2 linked regions of the Homo sapiens genome follow. The protein of the gene in region 1 purifies or fractionates together with the protein of each later gene. This does not show direct contact. Each region holds a gene or a part of one and is shown in the gene's direction. Other genes may lie near its edges.

Region 1 (5,048 bases):
CTGTACTTTTGGAACCCATTTATGACACTGCCACTAAAATTTTTTATCCAAAGCCACAGAATTCATTACATAGTATTAGGACAGATTTTTGTTTTTGTTTGTTTCTTTTTTTGTCTTGCATATATTTATGATCACCACATCATAACTTCCTACTGTGTTGCATTTAAAGTGATCTTTAAAAGGCTTAATTACAGCCACAACCAATACTAGCAATTATGAGGTTTTCCATTCAGGAATAATTGTTAAATCCACGTGAAAGGTGTTTGCTTCCTCTTTCAGTAATTTAGTTAGGTCAAGGATCCCAAGTTAACTTTTAACAAAGTTATTTTAGGCTACTGTTTCCTCACCAAGCAGTATTTTGGTGTTCAGAATAAAGTAATTGAGAAATAATTAGGGAATATGAGAGATATTTTAATGGCTAAAAATATTAGTCTTGGGGGAGAATATGTACTTGCTTACATTTTGGCATACACTGAAACTTTAAGTACAATTAGGTTTAATTTTTTAAAGGGGTCATATGCAAAGCTGATCATATTTAGGTTGTTAATGTTGAATGCTTTGAATATTTTAAGTAACTAATTATGTGCCAAAGGTACGCTGGGGGTAGACAAATGCTTTCACCCAGCTGTTCTGAGTTTTATAGAACCTTGAACTCCAGTGTCACAGAATTTATAGTTATAGCTACTAGCTATCAAGATAATTTATGATTGATTGATAGTAGAATAATTGACTTAGATTGATTGGTAGTAGAATAATTGACTTCAGGTAGGGTCTAGAATACTGTACTCTTAAGATTTTGTATCTTTCTTTTCATGAATACATTGGATTTTCAACGTTTTAAATGAAATGTTTTGGATATCACAAGCTCACTGATGTGGCAGTGAGTTTTTGCTGAGATATGGTCTATCACCATTAAAAAAATAAAACAAATGGAAAAAAAAACCTTAAGAAACTAGGACCTATGCTTTTGGAATCAATTTTCTATAATTATGTAATCCTGCATATTCCTAAAGCTGGAACAATCTAATAAGTTGCAGTGATTGAGATCTTATTTTTTTTCTCTTCCAATGATTATTTACGTAGCTAAGGTTAACTGGGTGGTTATAATTAATGCTTCACTACATCTTCCTACTTCCTACTTATGACCTGTCATATACATCCTGAAAATGCAAAGCACCTATTATTCCCACTTAGGTTTGAAAATATTTAAAATGGTCATAATGTCTCTCTTTTTGGAATTTCAGAAATTCAAGACTCCATGGAGGAAGTTTTTTACATCCATGCCAGTCTATGCAATAATTGTTGCAAACTTCTGCAGAAGCTGGACTTTTTATTTATTGCTTATTAGTCAGCCAGCATATTTTGAGGAAGTCTTTGGATTTGAAATTAGCAAGGTATGTAAAATGTATTCTTATATAAATTGTGGATTACCTGTGTATTTAAGTGAATACTAAATTCATTTGCAAAAATTTTTATCTTCTAATTTTCAGAGATTATTCATTTATTCATTAAACAAATAACTGCTAGGAAATAGAAGCAAAGTAAAATGTTTCATTGTCTACTGTATTCTGTTGTCTGCTAGAATTGCTCTCTGGTACTGAGAATACAGGCAAAACAAACCTAGTTTCTGCCTTCATGGAACTTAGAGCCCAGTTGGAGCGAGCAGCGGTGTAATCTTTTCCCTGTAAATAAACATAACTCCCTTTAAGTCTCAGCTCACAGACAATGTAACAAACAAAAAAAGTATTCCATTCAAATAGAATTCTACTTACAAATTTCCAATCTAATTATTCTTCAATGCTCTTAGAACTCTTGTCCAGCTACAAGATATGAGGATTGTAAAAAGAAAATCTGAAAACACTCTTATATTTTGTCCATCCAATCTATTAATTTAACAAGTATTTGTTGAACACAATGTGCAGAACTTTATGTGAGATGCAGAAATAAAAACATGGTTTCTGTCCTCAAAATGCTCACAGCTTGGTGGTGTAAACGTGAAAGTAAGTTACCAATTAGAATACAGCATGCTAACTTCCACAGACATTTGTTCAGAGCTATGGGAATATAATCATTTTGAGATTTTCTATGAGGATAAAATGAACACAAAAATACTACTCTATCTTTATATAGGAACTCGAAATTTAGAAACTACTCTCATATTCATGAACAACCTTTGTTGTTTGACCTGTTGAACAACAATCGTCATTTCTATTGAAATGATGGGGAAACAGAAACTAGAGAAAGCATTTAAATTGCTTAAAGCCACGCTAGTAATGCACGACAAAATCAAGTTTAGACAAAGATTCTTTGATTTCTGTTTAATTATCTTTACTATGCCATTCAAATTCAGGTAAATCATATATCCATTCAAGTATTTAGTGAGTATCTGCTCAATGCCATCTCTGTGCCAAGCCCTTTGCTAAGTCCTGAATACATTGTCTGTGCTGGCAATGGTCTTGCTATCTCTCTTCATGTCATTACATAAGTCCAGCTGGGCTCGCTATTCATATTCTATCTCTACTTGAAAGACTATCTGAGACCTGGGACTGAAGAAAACCTCAGTTTAGGAGTAGCTATTCTAAGAGCTCTTTTGTAATTCCTGTTTCTAAGGAAACTGTTTCCTCCATCCCCGAGAAGAATGGCTGCTTTAGACAGAGCTCTTCTCTCTAGAGCTGATCAAACATTCCAGGGTAGCCTTTGGGAACTCTGAGAGGTGTTATACTTCTCAACAAAGGCTGCTGGAGGTGTGCGTCCATTTTCATAATCTAGGACAAATATGATACCGACAGGCTATTAATAAAGCCAGTTCTCGGGGGCAGAGTGAGGAAGCCAACTGATGTTAATGAAACTGTGTGGTCATTTTGGTCCTGTAGCTCCAATTAATTGAGAATGCTTGAGTAAAAGCAATGGTATTTTGCAAAAAGTAATTATAAATCAACCAGCAGATGGGTTGATTTATTTCATTCATTAGTTATATTTTTAAATAAAATTGTGGATAAATTCACACACACAGATTGGTCTTCAGATACTAATTAGATTAGTTTAAAAAATTCTGACTTAGCTGAAAAAATTGTATAGGAGATGATGGAGAACATAGGGAATTTGCTTTGGGTCTAGACTGACATGGCTTCAAATCTAAGTTCTACAACAAAGTATTGGTATATAATCTTGGGCAGCGTTTTGAATAATTATCGGCTTCAATTTTCTTATCTCTAAATAATGGTATTAACTTAATACCATTAAATGATAATGATATTATTTAAGAAGTGCAGCCAAATTTAGGTGAAGTAAGTAAAATATTTACATGGAGGGTCATTCTCTGCAACTTTAGTTAAATTGGGTATCCTACAGAAAAAAATATGAGTGCAATGGCTTAACCTTCATTCTAAGTATACTGACTTAGTTCAGACAGCACTGTATATATAAATAAAATTGTAACATAGATTTTATATCAGTTAGCTATATGTTAATTGTATTAGTTAACTGAGATATACATATATATATCATTATATATTGGCATAGGCTAATACAATATATATCAGGTAAATACTTTTTTCATTTTTTAAAACAAGTATATATATATATACACACATACACATATATATATATAATTTAATATATTATATCAGCCTATGCTTATATGTAACATATTCAGGCCCTTGAAAATGGCATATCAGCGGGTCAGTGCTAGGATTAACCAGCACTTTCAAAGGTCAGATTATAGGGGCAAGCCAAATGAGAATAGACATCCATTCCTTTTGAGCTTCCTATTTAGGGGAGGAGAAGAACAGTGTTGGCTGGTTGTGCTTTGCTGCTATTTCTGAACAAGACGTGGATCAGATAGGAAGACATACGATCTAGACTATGACCCAGAAAAGCTAAAAGAAGGATGAGGCAAAAATCTAATTACCTGGAGTTTCTATGAAGAATAAATCAATTATAAGCTCAAAAACATTTATCCTAGCCTTGCAAAACCTTAAAATAATAAGCACACTTGTATGTGATTGACATGAATGATCTTTAGGAAGGTTTTGATCATTTTGATCATGTGTCAAGTGATTACTCATGATAAGTCCCCAAAAGCCAAGAAGACCACTGAATAGCTCAAAAACTTGAAACCTCTTTGGCTCTTTTGAGGTCAAATACAGAGTATATCCACATATTAAGAAAATAGGAGAGTCAATACCCTTAAATGTTAAATCAATATGCTAAAATAGTCTAAAACTTATCTCATTAACCCTGTAGATTTTTAGCACCTTGCATTTTCCATAGTGCTTTGCACACCCTTTGCTGAAAGTGTGAAAAAATAACCATAGCTTTGTTCCTTTCTTATCCAAAGTAGTCAAAATGATTGTTCAAATAGATAGTAAATAACAGAGGATTTTCAATTAAAAAACTTTTCAGATGTATTAAATACTGGGTCAGAATGAAAGTCGTTTATGTGGACTTAGGCAATGTGGTTACTCCCAAACTTTTAGCCTGCCTTTATAAATGCCAAAAATATGCCATGTAATTCTATACAAATCCTAACATAGTGTCTTTCAGAATGTTTTTGTTGTTGTTCAAAGGTTTCTTTCTACACATTGACTGCTTGAAATATATTTACTCCATATTAAGAATAAAAAGCCTTGTACTTTTCTCAGGATGCTAGTCTCAAAAGCAATAATGATTTTTTTTTTTAATGTCAGTTTACCTGACATCTTTATTTAGGTACCTGTTGAGCCCCTGCTACATACCAAGTTTTGTACTAGACTAAGCACATTAATATATATTGTCTGATTTTATTTGATTTTTCCTTCTCATGGCAGTGGTGCTCAGCATAAAGGCTAAGAGCCCAGTCTTTCGACTCACGTAGAACTGATTCAAAACTTGGCTCTCACAATCACTTAAGTCTTCTGACTCTAAATTTTTTTTATTTAATAAGAACACTATTAAAATCATCCATCTGGGATGGAAGAGATCATTCTATAGCCTGAACAGTTAACCTACTGTGGAGTCATTTACTGTCTCAATTAATTATTACAACTCAAATCCATGATTGTGATACC
Region 2 (4,274 bases), on another chromosome or scaffold:
CACATTTACATGTTCACATCTCCTTTCCTACAACCCTTTTTCTTTTTCAGAAAAGTGAAACTTTTTTCTAATTCATATTTCAACAGTCCTCCTTCCAGTGCTGTTTCTCTATAGAGTGACTGTCATTTGCCCCTCCTTTCCTGTGCTCTAGAGCTTATGATACATGGCTTTAGTATAAACATCCCTCATACATCACTGGCTGGTGCTCCACATATCTTTATTCCTCCTTGCCAAAAGCAGCAGGCGATGACAAGGATCAAAGAAGCATCCTCCTTCTTGCCAAAAAAAAAAAAATCTTCCTTTGGGTGGAAGTGGCTGTGGTGAGTGTTGTTGACCCAATAACGGACCAAATAAAATGCCAGTAACTTCTTAGCAGTGTTATCAGATGTTCTTTTTTATTGTATATATATAATTCTCCAACTGTGTAGTTCTTTCAAGTGTAATTTTTTTTCTTTTTCTTTTTTTTTTTTTTTGAGATGGAGTCTTGCTCTGTCGCCCAGGCTGGAGTACAATGGCATAATCTCGGCTCACTGCAACCTCCACCTTCGGGGTTCAAGCAATTCTCCTGCCTTAGCCTCCCGAGTAGCTGGGATTACAGCCACACACCGCCATGCCTGGCTAATTTTTGTATGTTTAGTAGAGATGGGGTTTCACCATGTTGCCCAGGCTGCTCTCGAACTCCTGACCTCGTGATCTACCCCCCTTGGCCTCCCAAAGTGCTGGGATTACAGGCGTGAGCCACTGCGCCTGGCCTCAAGTATAATTTTATCTGTGTATCCACGTTTATAGGGAGAGAACAAAAGTATAGAGGGAGTAGTGACTTTGCCAGCAAGCATCTTCTTCCCCATTGGGAGTAATTCCATTTTTGTTTTTTGGTTTTGTTTTGTTTTTACTAGTTCCTGTATGCCCACATTGCCAACTTCTGTCATTACTGCCTACTACAAAGACAGTATTTACTTCCATCTCTTTTCATTCCCAAATTTAGGGTCTGAATTGTTGCTTGTATAGATTATTACTTCCACTGTCTACCTATATGGGTGACCTAGAACTCTTTCTTAATAGAAAATAAATGTACAATATCTGAATCTCTGAATATAACCTTTCTTGTCTTTTAGTTCTCATGCTGGCACTATACTTTTCTTTGACCTCATAAAAACATTCAAAATTTTTTATTCACCCTCCCACCTCCTACCTCAGGCTATTAGTCTTTCCTGTCCACCTTCCCAAACTAACCATGATCCCATTTTGATCACTTGAATTCTTTCCTCTATATCATGATTTCTTCACGTAGGTATTATGAGAGTCATCTGGCTAGATGTGGAGATGTATATTTCTGGGCTTAAACTACTCCCCTTTTAAAAATCTTTATAACATTTCAACAATATACATAGGAAAGAATAAATAATGAGCCCTGAATTCCCTTCTCCACTCATTGCCAAGATTCAATTACTACAGACTAATTTTATTTATCCTCAACATCTCCTTTCATTCCTGTATTATTTTGAGGCAAAAACTAGGTATTATATCATTTTATCAGTAAGTATTTTAGAATGTATTTTTAGGAGATAAGAGCTCTTTAAAAATATATTTCCCTAATATAATTGTTATATTAGCTGTAATTCCTTAAAGTCATCAAATATCATGTCACTGTTTTTAAAACAGCTTTATTGAGATGTAATTTATACCATACAACTCACTCATTTAAATTATACAATTAACAGGGTTTTTGTTTATTCATAGAGTTGTGCATTTATCACCACAGTTTAAGAGCCACGTACCTTTTAGTGATCACCCCAAATCCCCTGTTCCCTCCCCAGCCCTATGCAACCACTAATCTGCTAATCCACTTTCTGACTGTTTAGTAATTTTTGAATCATACAACGTATAGTTTTGTGTGACTGGCTTCTTTAACATGTTTTCAGAGTTGATCTGTGTTACAGCATATATCAGCCCTTTATTCCTTTTTATTACCAAATAATATTCTGTTGTGTAGATATACCACACTTTGTTTATCCATTCATCAGTTGATGGACATTTGGGTTGTTTATATTTCTTAAGCTATTAAAAATAATACTGCTGCAAACATTCACATACACTTTTTTTGTGGTTATCTGGTTTCATTTGTCTTGGTTGTATACCTTGGAGTGTAACTTAAGTAATAAATATATATTATACTATACTGTATATATATAGATGTATATATACATATATAATATAAATTATATATATTATATATAATATGCTGTGTACTATAATATATTTTGAAAAATTGCTCAAGTTCATTATTAAAAAGAGATTTAGGAATGACAGTTCCTGCAATATATGTGACTTAGGAAGACAGCTTACCTATTGTGCTTTTGATGTCTTGGATAGTTTGAATGCCTATCAGTTTTGTGGAAGTATTTTCTTCATTTAAGAACACTTCGTATGTCCTTACAAGCAGTACATATTAGTTATCCTTTGGTTTTTAGTGTTCTTTGACAGTAAATTTGATTCCTGATTTCTTTTTAAGGAAAAATAGCACAAATACAAATAGAGTCTAAAAGCATTACTATAAAAAAAAAAAAGCCGGAAGATAACTTACGAATGCCATGTTGCATTTCTGCCACTTTCCTCTCCTAAAGTTGGTTCCTGCTGCCTATCATGCTATTAATTTTTTAATCTCAGTTCTTCATAGAATGTACAGAATTCCTTATTGACACTCTTGGTGTTATTGTGACATATAGCTATTCAATATTGTCAGTTTTTTTAAACAGTCATGTTGGGTCTTGGAATGTTACAGATTAGCTGAGAGTAACATGGTGGGAAAAAGGCATGACATCACCAAGCCAGCAAATGCCTGGAGGTGGATTATTTAGTTTGCATAAAATGTTTTAAATGTTTAATTATGTATTGTAGACTAAACATTACTAATTATAGGTGATAGTTTACTTATACCTCTAACATTGGTACAGTGTTTTTGTTTTTTTAAAAACATTCATCTTCCTTATAGAGATTTCTGTTTGTTTTTAAGGATATTTTGGAACTCTTAGAAAAAAGAGTGAAGTCAAGATTTTCTCACCGGCAGATACACTTAATGAATTCATTTGGTTTTCCACAGTATGTTAAAATATTTAAAGAACAGTTATCTCTACCTGCAGAGTTTCCAGACAAGGTTTTTGCTGAGAAGTGGAATGAAAATGTTCAGGTATCTTAAAAGGCAATAAAGCTAAATGTTCCTTGCTATATGATTTAAAGCAATTAAAACACAAATTTTAGAAATTAGTAAATTAACACAAAGTTTCTAATATTGCTGAAGGATAATGCTGCAGTAATACAAATTATATACTTTTTAAAAATTTTCTTCTTAGACAGTTGAAATGTCATTTCTCCTAAATTCTATCTCAAAAGAACATCACAGTTAAGCTTTAGGATTTATGTTATTAGTTTGAAGTAAACTTTAATGAGGCTTTAGTTTTATCTGTATGTGGTTTATATTTTAGATAATTTTATTTTATATATTTTACATATTTAGCAATAATAATAAATAGTAAATAATGATAAATAAATGTTAATGACTCATACCTATTATGTGTGGATATTTTTTTTCTTCCAGTTTTCATTAGCAACTTCAGCTTTTATTTTGTTGGGCCTTAAGAGGCAGTACAGACTGTGGCACCTCCAGTTATATTATCTAATAGGTGATCACATCTCACAGTCCCTGGAGACTTGAGAGTCTTAGATACAAAGGCAGGTTCATATGTTGTTTTAAAGATTTGCCACACCTTTGAGACTATAAATTTACCTGTGCTTAAAATATTCTCAACACACTAGCATTTTAATCTTACGCTGTCAAAAAGTTTCAGTTGGCAAAGAGAAAGGAGGAAGTATGCATATGTGTGTGTATTTAATAATATAATTGAAAAACATCATTAATGAATAAGTCCCTTATGCTAGAATCTCAAAAAATATTGGCCTCGTGAGAGTGGAAAATAATATAGAGTCCCTGGCTCTGAAGGAATTGGGAAAAACTGATTTATAATGTTAAAATACCGGTAAGGATAATTAGATCTTTGAATAGAATTACACAGTCTATATTCACTGACTCTATAAAAAGGATCATTTTATTTTAAAGCAATAGTGGTAGATTGTATTTTTACCGTGAATTTTTAAATACTAATACTAAATTGGAAGCGTTTTGCATTTAGTTTGTTCTTTAAATGATTATTGTTTGATTATAAAATATAGTCTGCTCATGTAAGCAGTATTTTGACACATTTCATTTTTTTAAAATA

What was found. The genes of interacting proteins can lie anywhere in the genome.
Region 2: the proteins of SLC17A6 (region 1) and ORC4 purify together in Homo sapiens (affinity purification with mass spectrometry; one large-scale study listed by BioGRID and IntAct). This does not show direct contact.

What each region holds. Positions count from the first base shown.
Region 1 is NC_000011.10:22,368,795-22,373,842, forward strand, and holds part of SLC17A6 (vesicular glutamate transporter 2), read left to right. Parts: intron 1-1,244; coding exon 1,245-1,394; intron 1,395-5,048. UniProt on the Homo sapiens protein: Multifunctional transporter that transports L-glutamate as well as multiple ions such as chloride, proton, potassium, sodium and phosphate.
Region 2 is NC_000002.12:147,946,964-147,951,237, reverse strand, and holds part of ORC4 (origin recognition complex subunit 4), read left to right. Parts: intron 1-3,013; coding exon 3,014-3,187; intron 3,188-4,274. UniProt on the Homo sapiens protein: Component of the origin recognition complex (ORC) that binds origins of replication. DNA-binding is ATP-dependent. The specific DNA sequences that define origins of replication have not been identified yet.